4 linked regions of the Homo sapiens genome follow. The protein of the gene in region 4 interacts with the protein of the main gene of each other region in a pairwise test. Each region holds a gene or a part of one and is shown on either strand. Other genes may lie near its edges.

What was found.
Region 1: the proteins of ALG13 (region 4) and YTHDF3 interact in a two-hybrid assay, tested with the Homo sapiens proteins (one large-scale study listed by BioGRID).
Region 2: the proteins of ALG13 (region 4) and ESRP1 interact in a two-hybrid assay, tested with the Homo sapiens proteins (one large-scale study listed by BioGRID).
Region 3: the proteins of ALG13 (region 4) and NXF2 interact in a two-hybrid assay, tested with the Homo sapiens proteins (one large-scale study listed by BioGRID).

Annotation. Positions count from the first base shown.
Region 1 is NC_000008.11:63,174,668-63,179,465, forward strand, and holds part of YTHDF3 (YTH domain-containing family protein 3), read left to right. Parts: intron 1-663; coding exon 664-749; intron 750-4,798. UniProt on the Homo sapiens protein: Specifically recognizes and binds N6-methyladenosine (m6A)-containing RNAs, and regulates their stability. M6A is a modification present at internal sites of mRNAs and some non-coding RNAs and plays a role in mRNA stability and processing.
Region 2 is NC_000008.11:94,647,221-94,652,018, reverse strand, and holds part of ESRP1 (epithelial splicing regulatory protein 1), read right to left. Parts: intron 1-4,798. UniProt on the Homo sapiens protein: mRNA splicing factor that regulates the formation of epithelial cell-specific isoforms. Specifically regulates the expression of FGFR2-IIIb, an epithelial cell-specific isoform of FGFR2.
Region 3 is NC_000023.11:102,245,498-102,250,811, forward strand, and holds the start of NXF2 (nuclear RNA export factor 2), read left to right. Parts: upstream 1-1,669; 5' UTR 1,670-1,741; intron 1,742-2,939; 5' UTR 2,940-3,061; intron 3,062-5,314. UniProt on the Homo sapiens protein: Involved in the export of mRNA from the nucleus to the cytoplasm.
Region 4 is NC_000023.11:111,725,128-111,730,402, forward strand, and holds part of ALG13 (UDP-N-acetylglucosamine transferase subunit ALG13), read left to right. Parts: intron 1-1,681; coding exon 1,682-1,928; intron 1,929-2,204; coding exon 2,205-2,318; intron 2,319-2,486; coding exon 2,487-2,643; intron 2,644-3,057; coding exon 3,058-3,178; intron 3,179-5,267; coding exon 5,268-5,275. UniProt on the Homo sapiens protein: Catalytic subunit of the UDP-N-acetylglucosamine transferase complex that operates in the biosynthetic pathway of dolichol-linked oligosaccharides, the glycan precursors employed in protein asparagine (N)-glycosylation.

The DNA of each region.
Region 1 (4,798 bases), on a different chromosome or scaffold from region 4:
AAGGATAATTATGGCTATCTTTTGTGTCTTAATTTTGTTTGTAGTTTCATGTGAAAGTCTTCATTCTGGGGGGCTTAGAATTAAAGCCCTCTTTATTTAGATATTTCATAATTATAAGTCTATTCATTGTGATATTGTTTCAAGTTAATTTTAGCCTAAACTTTACTGGAGACATTTAAGACATTTACTATAACAAATTAGATCGAAAATAGTTATTTCATTCTTTATTATACTAAATAATTTAGAGATTTAAACAAAGGTAGAGAACATTCAGAAATCTTTTTTATTGCCTACAACGCTACTTGAAATAGTTATTTTACATTCAAATATAGCATTAGGGAACTCTTTCCAACATTCTTATGTAACAATTTACTCACTACAGTGTTGAGATTGGGATATTTACTTAAAGTTTTTGGTAAGGGGAAGTGTATATATGGCTTGTGTTTATGTAATCTTGGGCTTATGTATCAAAAGACTTTTAAGTTTTTGTGGCACATGAATATTTGTATCTAAAATAGTTTATCCTTAAGAGGGTTCTTAAAAATAACTCAGTATTATTTTTTCTGATTACTTTTTTTGGCTTGAAAAATATTAAAAACATTAGGTTGTGCTGCGAGTTTCATAAAGATAACTACAACACTTCTAATACAAACATTTTTTTAGTTTCAGTACAAAACGGTTCGATTCATCAAAAAGATGCTGTAAATGATGATGATTTTGAGCCATACTTAAGTAGCCAGACAAATCAGGTAAGTCTTCTGACAGTTTCAGATTTTAGGAAATTAACCTTTTATTAGTATTAGTTGATTTTTCAAATAGATTATTTAATGAGATTAACCATAACATGGATTCATTCATCTAGTGTACCTATATAGTAAGTGAGTAGTGAGTAGCAGTTGCAGATTTATGGCACAGGAGAGTTCTTCTTCAGAAAGTATAGGCACCAGAAACTAGGTTATGAAATATAGAATAAAGATTTGAAGGTGACCATTATTTGTATATATTATGGTTAGGTTTTTTGTGTGTGTGTATTGAAGGAACTTAATCTTTTAATGTCACTGCTATATCTTCATAGCTTAAGCTAATTATAAAAGGCTTAATTAGCTAGAAATTTGGGTATTTGGAGGAGGGATTAGTTACCTGAAATTGCCTGCAATTTTGGGTCAAATGTAGTGTTTTCTTTTTTTAAGACATTGCAGATTGAATTCATTGATAACTATTGAAAATTTTAACATACCTTGGTAATGTCGGTGATAGAATTAAGGAGTTTATAAACATACTTGCTTTATAAACACAGTTACTTCTGTATTGTAGACATGGACAGTTTTATCAAATCAAGTAATTGGTAACTGGTGGCTTTGAGTATTTGTGTACAAGCGTAATTCCAATTTAAACATTGAAGAACAATGCTATTAGGTATCTGTATGCCATTTCTGCATCCATTTCTGTCTGTTACTAAAAATAAGCCACTGATAGAAATAAATGAAAAAATACATTTTCAGTATTCACCAGTTTTTTTAGAGAGAACATTGTGGAATGAAACTGTTTGTTTTGCTTTAAAAAAGCAAAAAATGCTCAAGAACTTTGGGTCTTAAAATTAGTTCTGTAGTTCTTATTTATTTATTTATTTTTGAGACGGAGTCTCGCTCTGTCGCCCAGGCTGGAGTGCAGTGGTGCGATCTCAGCTCACTGCAAGCTCTGCCTCCCGGGTTCACGCCATTCTCCTGCCTCAGCCCGGAGTAGCTGGGACTACAGGCGCCCGCCACCATGCCCGGGTAATTTTTTTGTATTTTTAGTAGAGACAGGGTTTCACCATGTTAGCCAGGATGGTCTCGATCTCCTGACCTCATGATCCGCCCGCCTCGGCCTCCCAAAGTGCTGGGATTACAGGTGTGAGCCACTGGGCCCAGCCCACCTCTGTAGTTCTTTGGAATAATTTTATGATTAATTTGATTAGAAACTCAGTTCTTTGGAATAATTTTATGATTAATTTGATTAGAAACTCAGTTTTTTTTTTTTCTTTAATTTTTGAGACAGTCTTGTTTTGTTGCCCAGGCTGGAGTGCAGTGGCGCAATCTTGGCTCACTCCAACCTCTGCCTCCCAGGCTCAAGTGATTCTTCTGCCTCAACCTCCTGAATAGCTGGGATTACAGGCACATGCCACCACGCCTGGCTACTTTTTGTATTTTTTAGTAGAGGTAGAGTTTCACCATGTTGGCCAGGCTGGTCTTGAACTCCTGACCTCAAGTAATCTGCCTGCCTCAGCCTCCCAAAGTGCTGGGATTACAAGCATGAGCCACCGTGCCCAGCCTAAAATTCAGATTTTAATTGGCACGTTAAAGATGCCAGTTAGTTTGTGTGTGTAAATTTGAAGAGTAAATTGGAAAACTGAATGAAGTTTGACTTGTCTGCTTGCATATATGGAGAAAATGAAAAACGTACTCTAAAATTTTAACCTAGATTTTTGAAACTCTGAAAGAACAAGGAACCAAATCTTACTACAGAACTGAACAGTTTGTACAGTAGAGTTATAGGGAAAATTTGAACAAAAAGTAGTTCCCAATTTGTGGGATGCAGGATTATTTTTAGGATTATGGAGAGTGGTGGTTGTGTTCAACCTCATCTACCTCTTGGTTACTTCCCCTTAACCACCCCTTCCTATCTACTGAGCAACATTCCTAGCATACATGGGAGGAGAAGAAATAAATGGGAAAGAAAAAAACTTTACGATCTCAGCAAAATTACTTTTCCACGTAAAGATTATGAAAGTAGATCATTTGTTGTGAAATGTAGTGCAAGTTTTAAAATAAGCGTGATTTTACTATATTCTGGCTCACATAGTAATCTCAGTTAACGCTTATGGCAGTATGGCAGTATTTTCCAACTTTGCTGAGAAATCTTAATATTAGGAGGTGTAATAAATATTCCTTCAAAAAGATGTCCATGTTTAGATAGATTTGAGAAATTTTGGAGGCTAAACAGTTGAACTGTTTTTTTTGCTACTTGATTTCATAGTTTATAAATTATAATTGAAAATGAAGTTCTTAAGATGAAGATATAGTATAAAAAATCCTGACTTGTTCAAACTCTTATTTTTTTTTTTTTTTTGAAACGGAGTCTCGCTCTGTTGCCTAGGCTGGAGTGCAGTGGCATAATCTTGGCTCACTGCAACCTCTGTCGCCCAGGTTCAAGAAATTTTCCTGCCTCAGCCTCCCAAGTAGCTGGGATTACAGACACATGCTACCACGCCTGGCTAATTTTTATATTTTTAGGAGAGGTGAGGTTTCACCATATTGGCAAGGCTGGTCTTGAACTCCTGACGTCAAGTGATCCACCTGCCTCGGCCTCCCAAAGTGCTGGGATTACAGGCATGGAACACCGCACTCAGCCATTCAAACTCTTTTTTAAGGAATTTTAGTGGACTGTAAAAGACAGTTTTGGAATTGCTACCTGAGTAATCTTCTTGCATGTTTTGCTTGATAACAGATATTTTACAATTCTTTATTATTTGTCACAAGGACATAGAAGGGTTTCTACTGGAGGAAAAATTTTTGTCAGGAGGATTTCTGGTATTCCATAGAGGCACCTTAGTGTCTTCCTAGGGAAAACCAGCGGAGGGTGCCTGAATCCCACCAGTGTAGCAACTAGCACTGTGGTTTGCGTTTTATCTGTTCTATATATTGGAATTGTGCATAAGACTTTACTTGTAAAAAAAAAAATAGTTTTAAAAAGTGTTTGGGAAACCATTACTTTTTAAAAGATGTAAAGGCATTTACCTTAGTGAACCCAAATGAATTTTTTCAGCTGCATCATTGCAGGTTATGTTGGAGCAAAACATTTGTAAAATAGATTTGTTTTAACTCATGATATTTGGAATCAACATATTTGTATCCTGTTTGAAGAGAAGTTGTAAAGTTTGATTCCAGTAAGGCCTGTTCTACCTCTCCTTTGTGGTACTAAATAGATTTTCAGCAGTCATCTTTCTTTAATATTAAAAATAATTATCTCTAACAAGATACATATTTACATTTTAAAGAGGATTAATACTGTAGAATGTTGAAAACTGGGTTTATTGAAAATTATCTGGAATCTTAAAGGTAAGTCGTATGAGAATTTAAGTACTCTCAATTATCTAGCTAGAAAATTAAATAAAATGTTTGGACCTTTTAAATAGTGCTATTATAACAGATTAGTGAAAACTGGATTTATTGATGAAAGATCTCAAGAAGATACTGGCAAATTTAGAGTTACACAACTATTTAATTAGGTCCTCATACACTGTACACAGTGTGTTTTAAAAATTAAATTCATTTATCTGATTTTAAAATTATAAATAAAAAATATTTTGATGGAAAAGTGTTTAACAAGTCTTTTGCTAATGATTTAAATTGCTTTGTATACTTAGATCTAGTTCATATCAAACCCAAGGGTACTTTAAAACAAGTTGTTGGCCTTTCTACTTATGTGGCAGCATATTTCTTCTATTTTGTAGTGTTCAGTTTCTGAAGGAATAATGTTCATAGTAATTTTGAAAGTAAATGTCAGTCCTTCATTTCTTTTTTTTTTTTTTATTGATCATTCTTGGGTGTTTCTCGCAGAGGGGGATTTGGCAGGGTCACAGGACAATAGTGCAGGGAAGGTCAGCAGATAAACAAGTGAACAAAGGTCTCTGGTTTTCCTAGGCAGAGGACCCTGCGGCCTTCCGCAGTGTTTGTGTCCCTGGGTGCTTGAGATTAGGGAGTGGTGATGACTCTTAAGGAGCATGCTGCCTTCAAGCATCTGTTTAACAAAGCACATC
Region 2 (4,798 bases), on a different chromosome or scaffold from region 4:
ACTCTGTCAAAAAAAAAAAAAAAAAAAAAAAGGCGTTTTAGAACAAATACAAAGACAAAAGAGGGAAAGAAGTGCCAAAAATAAGAACCAGAACTACACTCAATTCCTGGTCAAGTGTGGCGGCTCACGCCTATAAAACCAGAACTTTGGGAGGCTGAGGTGGGTGGATAACCTGAGGTCAGGAGTTCAAGACCAGCCTGTTTAATATGGTTAAATACTACTAAAAATACAAAAATCAGCCAGGCGAGGTGGAGGGCTCCTATAGTCCCAGCTACCTGGGAGGCTGAGGCAGGAAAATCGCTTGATTCTGGGAGGTGGAAGTTGCAGTGAGCCAAGATTGCATCATTGCACTCCAGCCTGGGCAACAGAGTAAGACTCCATCTCAAAAAAAAGAAAAAAAAATTCCTAAACCCTTTTGTCATCAAAATGGTCCTACTTTTTCATTTACATAGCACTTCACTTACAAAGCTTTCATTTTGGAATACTCAAGATTAAAGTTTGGCTCGGTAGACACAAGTAACTCCCAGGAAAGCAAAGCTGCTGTGTAGCAGGGTATACTCAGCTCAGACTTTGTGACTCTACAACTTGGGTTTTAGTGTCCTCTTCCATTAGAAATACACAACATTGGCCTGGCACAGTGGTGCAGGCCTGCAGTCCCAACTACTTGCCTAGGGTGCAGGAGTTTGAGGCCACAGTGAGCCACGATAGCATTACAGCACCAATGCACTCCAGCCTGAGCAAAAGTGAGACTTTGCCCAAAAAAAAAAAAAAAAAAAAAAGACCACACTATAATTTTCTTTCATCTTCCATAAATGCCTTGAAATACTGCATATTATTCAAGTTCCACATACTGTTTTTTTAAATGCAAGGCCTCATTGCTTTCCCTCACCATTCCCCCTGGAAAAAAGTCTGCCTTAAACACAAAAATTGCAGTGAGATATAAAAAATGACACTCTTCCCATATGATCCAGCAGTCACACTCCTTGGTACTTACCAAAATAAATAAAAAACCTAGGCTAGGAGTGGTGGCTCACGCCTATAATCTCAGCACTTTAAGAGGCCAAGGCGGGCGGATCACGAGGTCAGGAGATCGAGACCATCCTGGCTAACATGGTGAAACTCCGTCTCTACTAAAAATACAAAAAATTAGCCATGGGCGGGCGCCTGTAGTCCCAGCTACTCGGGAGGCTGAGGCAGGAGAATGGTGTGAACCTGGAGGCGGTGCTTGCAGTTAGCCAAGATCGCGCCCCTGCACTCCAGCCTGGGCAATACAGCAAGACTCCGTCTCAAAAAAAAATAAAAATGATTTAAAAAACCTATGTCCATATGAAAACCTGCACGTGATGTTTATAACAGCACTATTCATATTTGCAAGAACTTGAGAGCAACCAAGATGTCCTTCAGTAGGCGAATAAACAAACCATGTTTGGATAAACAAACCGTGTATGGATAAACAAACCATACATCCAAACAATGGAATTCAGTGCTAAAAAGGAACTATAAAGCCACAAAAAGACATGGAGTAATCTTAAATGCATATTACCGGCTAAAAAGACAATCTGAAAAGATTACATACTACATGATTCCAACTATATGACCTCCTGGAAAAGCCAAGACTACAGAGACAGTAAAGATTGGTGGTTGTCAGGGGTTAAGGGAGAGGGAGGAATGATTGGCCAAAGTACAGAGGATTCTTAAGGCAATAAAACTATTCTATTAGGGATAAAAGACTTTAAGGTAGCAGGTAAAAAAAAACAAAACAAACAAAAAAATTCTATACTATGCTATTGCTACAATGTATTTTGATACCACAATGGTAGATAGATGTCATTATACGTTTGTCAAAATCCATAGAATGTACAAGACCAAAAGTAAACCCCAATGTAAACTATGAACTTTGGGTAATATTGACATGTCAATGTAGGCTCATCAGGTGTAACAAATGTACCACTCTGGTACAGCACTTTCACAGTGAGGGGGCACGGGGAGAGAAGGAGAGGAAGGGAAGGAGCAGGGAGAGGAAGAGGGAGAGAATAACAAGGGTTCTATAGGAACAATATACTTTCTGCTCAATGGTGCAGCATGTAGACAGTGGGGGAGTGAGTGAGAGTGTGTATGTATGTGTGTAACAAGGGTTATATAGGAACACTATACTTTCTGCCCAATTTTGCTCTAAACCTAAAACTGGTCTAAAAAATAAAGTTGGGGTCGGGTGCAGTGGCTCACGCCTGTAATCCCAGCACTTTGGGAGGCCGAGATGGGTGGATAACTTGAGCTCAAGAGTTGGAGACCAGCCTGGCCAACATGGTGAAACCCCATCTCTACTAATAATACAAAAATTAGCCAGGCATAGTGGCGGGCGCCTGTAATACCAGCTACCTGGGCGGCTGAGGCAGGAGAATCGCTTGAACCCAGGAGGCGAAGGTTGCAGTGAGCCGAGATCACGCCATTTCACTCCAGCCTGGGTAACAGAGGGAGGCTCTGTCTCAAAGAAAGAAATAATAATAATAATAAAAAGTTGAGATTACAGGTATAGCAGATGCACCTGTAATCCAAACTTCTCAAGAGGCTGAGGCAGAATTGCTTGAGTTCAGGAGTCTGAGACCAGGCTGGGTAACATAGCACGACTACATCTCAAAAAAATAAAGCCTACTAATTAAAAAATAAATGAGGCCAGGATATGGTGGCAAACACCTATAATCCCTGCATTTTGGGAGGCCAAGACAGGAGGATGGCTTGAGGCCAGGAGTTTGAGAGAAGCCAGGGCAAAATATGAGGACCCATCTCCAAAATTTGAAAAATAATTTTTTTTTAAATCTCACTCTGTCACCTGGGCTGGAGTATAATGGTATGATCTCGGCTCACTGCCTCTTGGGTTCAAGTGATTCTTCTGCCTCAGCCTACTGAGTAGCTGGGATTACAGATGTGCGTCATCATGCCCGGCTAATTTTTCTATTTTTAGCAGAGACGGGGTTTCGCCATGTTGGCAAGGCTGATCTTGAACTCTTGAACTCAAGTGATCCACCTGCCTCGGCCTCCCAAAGTGCTGGGATTACAGGCATGAGCCACCGTGCCCAGCCAAAAATGGATTTTTGTTAAAAATTTTAAATTTACTTGGATGTAAAGTTAATAAAGCATGTTTCCAAAACACTTAGAATATTGTGACATCACTGAGGGTCCAAATTGATATTTCTGTATCCTCGTTTAAAACAACCAATCAAGGATACAAGTATTTCACGACAAAAAAAATTAAACACTTCAACCTGCACATTCTCTTATCTGCTCTTCTCCAGGTGTTTACAGAAGCCCCTTTCCCTCCCCCACTGGTTTACCAGGTGAAACAGGTAATTCCTCAAGAGCAAATGACCTTCTGTCCACTTGGCAAAACCATCAAGAATGTTTAATGACTACAGATCTCCCAATTCAGCGTCACTTCCATATTGGCAAGGAAAATGTTTAATGCTCTGAAAGAACGGAACAATTCAATTCAGACATTGTAGAAATACTTTGCATAGATGAGCACAAGTTGATATTCAGATTGGACATAATTGCTTTTAGCCTCAGAAATTGGTCTGGTAGCCTAGACAGGGAAATAAGTATTCCTCTGAATAGTAGTCATAAAATAACTCACCACAGCAGCAATATAACATAAAAACCGTTGCTAAGAAAGCTTATTAGCATTTCTAACTTGTTAAATGAGAAAGACATGTACAAGTACGATATTAAATATTAAAACATTTAAGAATAAAATCCACTTTTTTTGAGACAGGGTCTTGCTCTGTTACCCAGGCTGGAGTGTAGTGGCACAATCATAGCTCACTGCAGCCTCGACTTCCTGGGCTCAAGCAATCCTTGCACCTCAGCCTCCTAAGTAGCTAGGACTACAGTCTCATGCAACCACGTCCAGCTAATTTTTTTATTTTTTGTTGACATGGGGTTTCTCTATATTGCCCTGGCACAACAATCCTTAATATACTTCCTTTCCTACTGAAGTTATCTTTTTCGTTTGTTAAAATATTTTTATTTCATTTTACTTTTTGTAGAGATGGGTTCTCGCAATAATGCCCAGGCTGGTGTCAGCACTCCTGGTCTCAACCCATCCTCCCTCCTCAGCCTCCCAAAGTGCTGGTATTACAGACATAAGCCACCATGTCCAGCCAGAAGTTGTCTTTTTCTAAATTAAGATAGCTTATTAGATTTTTCCTCCACTGCCTTCTAATTTTTCAGTAGGTACTCTGGTTCTCTATTTTGTGGAAGACCAACTATCCACATTAAAAAGTTTAATATATACTTAAGAACTGAATTGTGTCCTCCACCTCCCCCAAAGTCCTATGTTGAAGCCCAACCCCCAATGTAACTATCTGGAGAGAGGGTCTTTAGAAGTTAAGTTTAAATGATGGTCAAAGGGTGGAGGGGTCTAATTAGATAGGGCAGTGACCTTGTAAGAAGATAACTCCTCCTGCTATCCCCCCAGAAAAGGTGGCTGGCTACCTGCAAGCCAGGAAGAGCCATCACCAGAACCTGACCATGCTGACACCCTGATCTTGGACATCCCAGCCTCCAGAACTGTGAGAAAGTAAATTTCTTTTGTTTAAGCTCCGTGGTCTATGGTATTTGTTATGGAAGCTTGAGCTGTCTAATACAACATTCAACCCAACAGAAAAACCAGTGAGAATTTTTCTGGTGTACTAACCTTTTTAACAAAATTCTTGTAAGAATTCTGTCACAATGAGCTTATTCCACCCTCTTCCCAACACTACTGGTCATGCTAAGCCAAAATTCCAGCTAACTGACTCCA
Region 3 (5,314 bases), 9.5 Mb from region 4:
CCTGGCCAAGGTTATTTAGCTACAAAGTGGTAATGCCACGGATTCAATCCTAAGATACCTGATGCCCATTACCCCATCTACTGAAAGATGACACTGTACTGCAAAAATTAAAACAGACATAGCTGATCTGCTTCTTTACCTGTAATTAGAGTAAAAGAAAACAACAAAAGAAAACAAAAACAACACAGTGACATGCTAACTGTCATGAAGAAAAGTACCACATGTCTGATAAGGTGATCAGAGATGTACACTAAGTAAGGAAGGTAGCTATAGGGATATCTAAAGCCAGGCTGTTACAGAAAAACACTCAACGGTATGGGAGTATGCTTGCTGAGCTAGTGTTAGAGCAACAAAAAGGAGGCTAGTGTGGCTGGAGAAAAATCCATTTATTCATTCAAAGTATCCACTGAAGCAGGCATTGTTATAGGCACTTAGGGTACATTAATGAGCAATAGACAAAGATATTTGCCCTTCTGGAATTTTTATTTTTCCACCATGGGAGACAGACAATAAAAAACAAAAACAGCATATGATTAAAATATATTGCATTCCAGAAGATGACTGCGGGGGGGAAAAATCAAATAGGGAAGAAGTGGAATCAGGAGTGTGGGCTGAGGGTTGGACATTCAAACAAATATTGGCTGCTTTGCAATTGATAGTATTATTAGATGGGTGGAAGTCTTCTCCTTTGTGCCGCCTTTGCCAGGCATCAGTGTAAATGCTCTGTTGGCTTCACTGCAGAGGACAACACATTTTTCCTATCTTTGGTCAGGACTCAGTTCCTTCTTTAATATATCAGAGAACCAGAGACACTAATATCTGACAGCCTTTTGCCATCAAGTGGCCATGCGTTTTTTAAGTAAGCATCCCCTGCTACACGTCCACTAAATTTGAGCTTTTAACTGTCTGTGTTGAGACGTGGCCTGGTAGAAACCCTCGCTGGGGCCAGGCGCGGTGGCTCACGCCTGTAATCCCAGCACTTTGTGAGGCCGAGTCGGGCGGATTACGAGGTCAAGAGAGGGACACCATCCTGGCTAACATGGTAAAACCCCGTCTCCACTGAAAATAGAAAAACCAGCCGGGCGTGGTGGCAGGTGCCTGTAATGCCAGCTACTCGGGAGGCTGAGGTAGGAGAATTGCTTGAACCCGGGAGGCAGAGGTTGCATGAGATGGGATCCCGCCAGTGCACTCCAGCCTGGGCAACAGAGCGAGACGCCGTCTCAAAAAAAAAAAAAAAAAAAAAAAAAAAAGAAAAGAAAAGAAAAGAAAAAAAAAGAAAGAAAGAAAGCAAAGAAACCCTGGCTGGCCAGTGCCCAGGCCATACACAATGGCATTGTGCCTCACTTTTCACCTAAGACGAAATCAGCGGGTGGGGCAGGCTTATAATCAGAACACCCCTCCCTTTCCACCTCACACACTCCCACCCGCCTGTCCCACAATCCTTCCTGCCCCTCCCGCTCTCCCACCCTTGGTTTCTCGAAACCCCTTCTCCTTCCCTGCCCCCCGTCCCCCGAGCCCCAGGAGGGGGAGGGGCAGGAATCTGGCTCCGCCTCCCAGTATGGAGATGATTGGTCAAAGGAGGTCACCTGACCAAGCTGAGCCAATTGAAGTCCTCTCCCCACTGCTTTGAGAAGGAACCGTTAAGACGCTGGGCCCCACCCACAAGATTGCGTCTTGTTTGTGGCAAGATTCTGAGGGGAAGTGTAGCTCCCAGGTTGGTTCCAAGTCTTCTTCCAATTAGGTAAATTACAACAATATCTTTTCCATAAATTTCCTTTCTTTTCTTTTTTGCCTTTTTTTTTTTTTTTTTTTTTTTTTTGAGACGGAGTTTGGCTCTTGTTGCCCAGGCTGGGGCGTAATGTCGCGATCTCGGCTCACCACAACCCCCACCTCCCGGGTTCAAGCGATTCTCCTGCCTCACTCCCAAGTACCTGGGATTACAGGCATGCGCCATCATGCCAGGCTAATTTTTGTATTTTTAGTAGAGAGGGGGTTTCTCCATATTGGTTAGGCTGGTCTCCAACTCCCGACCTCAGGGGATCCACCGCCTCGGCCTTCCAAAGTGCTGGGATTACAGGCGTGAGCGTCCGTGCCCGGCCCTTCTATAAATTTTATATAAACTAGGCCTTTTTTGGCCTACATTACCTAGGGTCAAGGTTTAGGGATTCATAGGAAAGGCAAATCCGGCTGGATTGCTCAGTGGTCCACTCTCCAGTCCACTCTCTATGTATCCCTTATCTTCACGTGTGATTAGGTTCAATTGTATGGCTAATCACTTCATGTTCTCTCTTTGCAATTTCTCAGGCAGGTTTTCTCTTCTTCTTCAGAAAGTTATATTTCTCTTTTGCATCTTAGTTTTGTTTATGGTTAATTTTGATATGGCGGGCTTTAAATTGTAAATATTGGATTGTATAGATATTTTTCTTTCTATTGTATTTCATTCCTTTTATGCTTAAAAATGCTTTCCTCATCTGAAGAGTAAATACATATTCACCTGTGTGTTGAAGATGACTGGGCTTTCATCTCTTATAATCTTTTTAATGAATCATGTGGTATGAGCATGTATCCCTCTTTGTATGCATCCTTCTAACTATGTTTCAATTGGTTATTGTTAAGCAGTGTGGTTTATAGGTTGCCAGCCCTTTAGCCACTGATTTTGTCTTTTAAAATTCTTTACTCTGAAATAATTTTAGACTTACAGAAAAGTTACAAAAATGATTATACAGAGAGCCCTCGCCTGGATTTCCTTAATGTTAACATCTTATATAACCATAGAAAAATTACCAAAACTAACTACTACATTACATTGATGCACTAATTGACATTACTACATCGATGTTAATTACCAACAGTTAGCATTGATGTAGTACTATTAACTAATCTACAGATTTTATGTGAATTTCACCAGATATCTCACTGATGTCCTTTTTCTATTCTAGGATCTTATCCAGGACGCTTCATTGCATTTGGTCTTCATTTCTCCTTAGTCTCCTCCAGGCTGACATTTCCTCAATCTTTATTGGTCTTCCACAGCCCTGACACTTTTGGAGATACCAGTCAGGTATTTTGTGGAATGTCTCTCAATTTGTGTTTGTCTCATGTTTTCTTATGATTAGATTGAAGTTGTGCATTTGTAGCAAGCACACCTGTTTTATTCTCCTCCCTTTCCCAGTGGCGAGGGAGGGATTCCCACCCTAGTGTTATGGGGGCGGCTGAACACATGGTACCCTATACTGGACAGACGGAATCCACAGCAATTTATCAGTAACATTTACTCACAACTGGAGAGAGGAGGGCACCTCACGCCAGGTAGAGCCACACAGTGTCACACTCTGGAAGAGAGTGAACAAGCAGGGGCTTTCAGGGGGAAGTCTTTGTAGTAACCAGAGGATGAAGTGACCGTTGGTTCAGGGTAGGACGATTGGCTTGTTTGAATAATTCTGCAGGCTGGTGGGGACCTGAAACATGCTACCCAGAGATAAGCAGGCACTGTGTCTGTTCAACATGATAATAAGGAGGGTACTTTGGCCAGGGGGCCTTTCTCCCTGGGAACCCAATAGGGAAGATAACTTGTGGTGAGGCCATTCAGGGTCCTCCTGTTCTACCCCAGATGTCAAGGCATCCATATAATTGGACCTCTAATTTTAGGTCTTATGCGACATTACCGCAAACGTGATTTCGTTCCCTTCTATGTGGATCATGTCAGGGGTACATGACATCCATAAGTTGTATTACTGGTGGTGCTCACCTTGATCACTTGGTTAAAGTGGTGGGAGTTATGCTGCCCCAGTGTAATGCTACTATTTTCCTCTTTGTTAGTAATAAATATAGTGTGAAAAGTTCTTTAAGAAGAAACACAATAGATCCTCTTATATTCCTGTTTCTTCGCAGACTTTGACCCACTACTGTTAAAATCTGTCTAGGGATCTTGCCTACAGCAAATATTACCTAATGGTGATTTTCTGTTTTCCTAATTTCTGCTACATTTATTAATTGGAATTCCTCTGTAAGGAAGAGCTATCTTTACTCCCTCATTCATTTATTTCTTCAATTTATTTATCTCAGTATGGGCTCTTGAATAATTATGTTATACATGCCAGGCTTAATACCTAGGTGATGGGTTGATGGGTGCAGCAAACCACCAGGGCGCAGGTTTACCTATGTAATGAACCTGCACATCCTGCGCATGTATCCTGGAACTTGCAATAAAATAAAATAAAAATTTAATCTAATTATATCATTATTTTGTTCTTTGAACTGTTCTAGCCTTGGCCATTGGGAAGTCATTTTGGTTGGTTCTGTGGTCTTTTGATATGACCCTATCCTTTTTTGGTACCTTTTTCTGGCACAATAAGATGTTCAGATTCAGCATGTGTGTGCCCCCCTCCCCTCACACACACACACCCCTTATAGCCCTGGATTAAAACAACTTCTACGAGGAGCCCCGGTTCCCTTTCTTGGGGAATGATATTTACCAACCAGTATCTCGGTGTGTGTTCATTATTAATGGCGTTTCATTGCTGCTAAGGCTCTCTCTATGGAGAGGGTTAGGAAATAATGTATGTATACACCCATGCCTATAGACACATCCACATTTATTTTGGTATCTATCTGTATGCATAGCTATTAAAAGCCAGGAGCTTGTATTGATACTTTCAATTCCAATCATTCTAGACTTATTTGTAGATTCGTTCTCCGACCTGGCTTTCATTATCAAATAGTTTACATACCTGTTTATTTCTGGTCAGTAGATACATAAAGTAGCGCCTGAATTGCTAACAAATGCCCCTGTTGCAAACATGTTAATAACTTATATTTTTGTACAGTTGTTTTTGTCTTTGGCCTTAGAGGATATAGTCAAAATACTGCTCTCCAAAGTTATGTATCTTAGATCTTTTCTTCCTCTCTCCTTCAGCGTGGTTAAGACACTCATTTGTAATATTGTTAGTTGAACCTGTTTCTGTTTGATTTGGGGTACCCTCACCCCAATATCCCGGTTGATTTTAATTTTTTATTTATATTTTGGGTATGTGCATCATTACTATGATCCAAAGAGTCAGGGTTATACAAAAACCTATACTCGGAGAAATGTCACTCCTTCGTCATCCCTTCTACCCTGTTCCCATTCCCCATTTCTTTCCACTTCTTTCCCTGGCCCTCCCTGTAGGGTAATCAGCCCCTTTGGTTTCTGGTTTAACCTTTCCTGTATTTATTTTGCCCAAATGAGCAGATACATACATGTTTTCTCATATTCCTTTCTTACACGAAGGATAGCATACTATACATGTTCCTTTGCACTTTGCCTTTCCTACTT
Region 4 (5,275 bases):
TACTATTTTTTAAATGTATGTCATATGTCTTGTTGTAGGGTAGGGTTTCTCAACTTTAGCATTACTGATAATGGAATGGATACTACTTCACTGTCGGGGGTTTGTCCTGTGCATTGTAGGGTGCTTCATAGCATCCCTGGCTTCTATCCACTAGAAACAAAAATGTTTCCAGACATTGCCAAATATTCCCTAGAGGAGGGAGAGGCACAGTTGTCCCTGGTTGAGAACCATGGTTCTTAAGGGACTTTGTGTAAACTTAAGCACTCATATTTGAGAGCTAAAAAGAAAAAAATGATCTTGTGGAGATGAGTAGAATGATGGTTACCAGAGGCTCAGAAGGGTATTGGGGGTGGGGGATAAAGAGGGATTAGTTAATGGGTACAAAAATAGGTAGTAGGATTAAGATCTAGTATTTGGTAGCATAATAGGGTGACTGTAGTTAACAATTGCATATTTCAAAAAAACTAGAGGACTGGATTTGGAATGTTCCCAACATAAAGAATTTGTAAATGTTTGAGGTGATAGATATCCCAGTTACCTTGATTTGATCATTATACATTGTATGCTTGTATCAAAATAGTGCATGTACCCCATAAATACGTACTGTTCTACACCTATAAAAATTAATTTAAAAAACTTAAGCTGACATGGATCTTAACCTGAGGGGGAAAAATATTTCTTAGAGACCTGAGGGGGAAAAATATTTCTTAGAGAACTAGGAAAATACCTCATAGAAGCAGCCAGGGATATTAACAGGCATAATTTATTAGAGAATAGTAATGTGTGTGATTGGATGACTCGGAGTTTTTGGGGTTTTTGTTTGTTTGTTTGTTTGAGACAGAATCTCGCTCTTTGGCCCAGGCCGGACTGCAGTGGCGCTATCTCGGCTCACTGTAAGCTCCACCTCCCGGGTTCACGCCATTCTCCTGCCTCAGCCTCCCAAGTAGCTGGGACTACAGGCTCCTGCCACCGTGCCTGGCTAATTTTTTTTGTATTTTTAGTAGAGATGGGGTTTCACCGTGTTAGCCAAGATGGTCTCGATCTCCTGACCTCGTGATCTGCCCGCCTCGGCCTCCCAAAGTGCTGGGATTACAGGCGTGTTTTGTTTTTTTTTTTTTTTTTTTTTGAGACAGTCTCACTCTGTCGCCCAGGCTGGAGTGCAGTTGTGCGATCTTGGCTCATTGCAACCTCCACCTTTCGGGCTCAAGCAATTCTCCTGCCTCAGCCTTCTGAGTAGCTGGGATTACAGGCGCACGTTACCACGCCTGGCTAATTCTTGCATTTTCAGTAGAGACGGTTTCACCATGTTAACTAGGCTGTCCTTGAACTCCTGACCTCAAGTGATCCACCCACCTCGGCCTTCCAAAGTGCTGGGATTACAGGCGTGAGCCACCGTGCCTGGCCATGGATGACTCAGTGTTTTGATGACCTATACTAACCTGCCCATGCTGGGGATAGTGCCGAGATATACCCATTGATACAGAAATTACCTGCTGGTTTTGTCCTTCCAAATAAAAGATCTAGTATATCCTTCAAAAATACAAAAATTCCCTCCCTATGTTTATTTGGTTTGTTCCTAGGGGAAGCATTGGAAAGTTTAAGGCAGTGTGGTGGTGACAGTACACTGGGCCTTTTGCTTTGATTATGAAGCTTATTTGCTACCTCTTTGTTTGCCTGAAAGTTATATCAGAGATGGACATAAAGCAACAGAAGAAGATGTTCAAGAAAATTCGAGGGAAAGAAGTTTACATGACTATGGCTTACGGCAAGGGAGACCCCCTCCTCCCACCCAGGCTGCAGCACAGTATGCATTATGGGCACGATCCTCCAATGCACTACTCACAGACAGCTGGCAATGTTATGTCTAATGAACATTTTCATCCTCAGCATCCATCTCCGAGACAAGGTCGGGGATATGGGATGCCCAGGTAAGACATTGACAGATTTGTATTTTCATGGTCTAGGGAAATATGAAGCAATTGAAGAGATCCAAGAAGATAGAATGCCATCAAGATGAGGGTCTCTGTGACATACAGACTGTATTTCATTAATAATAGTTAGCCCTAATGCCAGTATTGCAGAGAGCAGAGCTCTTTCTAGTTGAATGTTTTTAGAAAGACAGATTAGTTCTATTTAACTACAGAGACTGACTACTTAGGTATTAGTGAATAGAGAGTTCTAGTTTCCTTTCTCTTTATTCTTAGGAATTCATCTCGGTTTATAAACAGGCACAACATGCCGGGCCCTAAAGTTGATTTTTACCCAGGCCCAGGTAAAAGGTGCTGCCAGAGCTATGATAACTTCTCTTATAGATCTCGGTAAGTATTGTGTTGAAAGTCAGAGAAAATTGGTAAGTCTGATTTCATTGCTGAACATTAATGTTTTAAAAAGTGTCAACTTTGAGATATTTGAACTGTTATTTAGAAATTAGGAACAAGTTACTATATTTCATCATTTTTACTTTTTTATTATTTGAACCACTTAAGTTCATTTAGACGTAGTCACCGCCAGATGAGTTGTGTGAATAAGGAGTCCCAGTATGGATTTACCCCAGGGAATGGACAGATGCCCAGGGGCTTGGAAGAAACTATTACTTTTTATGAAGTTGAAGAAGGGGATGAGACTGCTTATCCAACTTTACCTGTGAGTGGATCAATGCTTTACTCAAAAAGCTGTTTACTTTTTTCATTTATTTTTTTGAAGTAAAGGCAATGTGGATAAATTTTAGATTTTGTACAAATAACCAAACAAAGCCTTTTCTGGAAAATGAAAATGAGAAAAGAGACATTTTCTCCCAGCTGTTCCTAGAGAAGGGAATAGAGGTAGACTTGATAATCTTGCCTATAGAGTATGGGTTAATATTTTCTATTTTCTTGATTTTTACTTCATATTTTTTGTATTCTAAACTGCATGGAAAACATTTAATTACAGAGTTCTCTTACAATAGCAGTTCACATTGTTAGGCTAGTTTTTAAACTGCCTTTTAAAACATCCCTCTAGCTTTTTTTTCTGACTATATAGTGAGAACTGCAGTGTGTGTGTGTCTCTCTGATACAGAATCATGGAGGTCCCTCTACAATGGTTCCTGCTACTTCAGGATACTGTGTTGGAAGGCGGGGACATAGCTCAGGCAAACAGACTTTGAATTTAGAGGAGGGCAATGGCCAGAGTGAAAATGGTGAGTCAATTACAGTTAAATATTTTTTAAAAGATTCTTGTGGCATTAGCACATCAGGCCAGTGAAGTAGACCAATTTGGTTTTGGCGTCTCTCTCTGTTCCAGTAGCTTAGTTCTGAAAGATTTATATAAGTTCTTAATGCTTGCTGGGTTTTTGAATATGTCCTGGTATTTCTCAGAAGAGTAGACTTCTATTTCATTAGGCTGCTACATTGTTATAACTTGTTTTCAGCTCTCTGCATAGGTCTTTAGTGAGTTTTGACTTGGTGTCAGATATCAGTATGGAAAACATCTATTCGTTGTTAGTAGGGCACTATTGATAGTTGTCCTCACCATTTGTATATGTTAGGCTTTTCGTGTGACTGGCTATTATTTTTTAAGACTACTATGAAGTAACTATTCGATAGTTACTTCATACTATGAAGTCTATTTGATCTATAAACATTACTCTTTATTGAACCCTACGTGATACCCACTCTACTAAGTCATTATATTCATAATATAGTCCTTCGTGTGCTCTTCTGAGGAATGTGCTGTCCCTATTTTACATATGAGGAAATTGAGATTCAGAGGGTAAATGACATGGCTAAGGTCATATCCTTGGTAAATGGCAGAGATATAATTTTTTGTAACTTTTATTGAGATATAATTTACATATCATACAATTCAGCTATTTAAAGAATACAATTCAATGGTTTTTTATTCAGAGTTGCATACCATCAACACAATTAATACTAGGACATTTTTATCACCACAATAGAGAAATCCTGTGCCCATTAGGAGCCATTCCCCATTTGCCCCAACCCCCAGCCCTTGGCAACCATCAGTCTGTTTTCTGTCTTTATGGATTTGCCTCTGCTGGACATTTTTTATAATTGGAATCGTATACACACACATAGCCTTAACAGTTTTTATGTTGACTCCTACCATGGAATGTGTTTATTTTTACCTTGTTACTTTTAAAAGATACTGTATATCCCTATTGAAACAATTGTGGAGCATTGAGTGGCTTAAGGAGGTGTCAGGCATTCCTAATGACTTGACTTATGAATAAGTTCCTTATTTTCTTGTACTCTTTTTTTCTACTAGTGTAGAAAAAAAATAGATATTTTTAGGAATTTAATGAGTAAAAAAATCTAGTGCAAGAATGATCTGTGAAAACTTTGTACGTGTGTGCATGCGTGTGCTTAAGGACATTTACTGTCTGCTCTCTTATTTAGATGACCCTTTTGTCTTTTAGCTCTATGGGTAGTGTGGCATATTTGAAATAACCAAATCTTTGCTCCCACCTTAAATCTGGAGGAGTTTCATGCGTGTGTGTTTGATAAGTGGTGTGTTTAAGAATCAAATTTAGTTTAGAACTGCGGGTTTATATTTGGTGGAAAACTGTCCGATTGAGTATTGACTTTCTCTGCATTTCAGTGGTACAGAAATCTTAAAAGTACTTCAGTCTACTGAGCCATCCTTTGAGGACACACTCATTTTACATGTATTACTTACATGAAACAGATTGAAAAACAGATGAGGCATACATGTTCCCTTAATGTCCACCTAAGGAAACAGTGGATTATACTCATACTTTATAGACACCATTGAGTATTTAGTATGTGTAAAGCACTATGCTAAGTTACTTTCACTTCCATTAACCATCCTCAAAAGGCCTATGAGCTAGGTACTGTTACTCCATTTTACAGTGAAGAATTGAGGCACAGAGATTAAATAACTTGCCTAAAGTCATGTAGTTAATCAGAATTCAAATCTAGGCAGTCCTCACTCCAGAGCCTATGTGCTTAATCACCACACTGTAGCCTCACTGGAAAAATTGGACACAACTGAGTTTTCACTTCTGCCTGACCTCTAAGAGCTAAGTGGATTTTCAGAGGAGAAATTTGTACAGCTTACAGCTAGTCTGTGGCTTCAATATCTGTTGACTAGTGTGAAAGCTCATATCACTTTTCAGGATGTATGCATTTTAGTTTTGAACATATAACCATAAAACTGGTGGAAAAAGCAAGTGCTGGCCATTTGGCTCTGCTGAGCTAAAAAGACCTATATAAACACATTTCTTCTGTCTTGTCTTTTTTCCCCAGGGCGATAT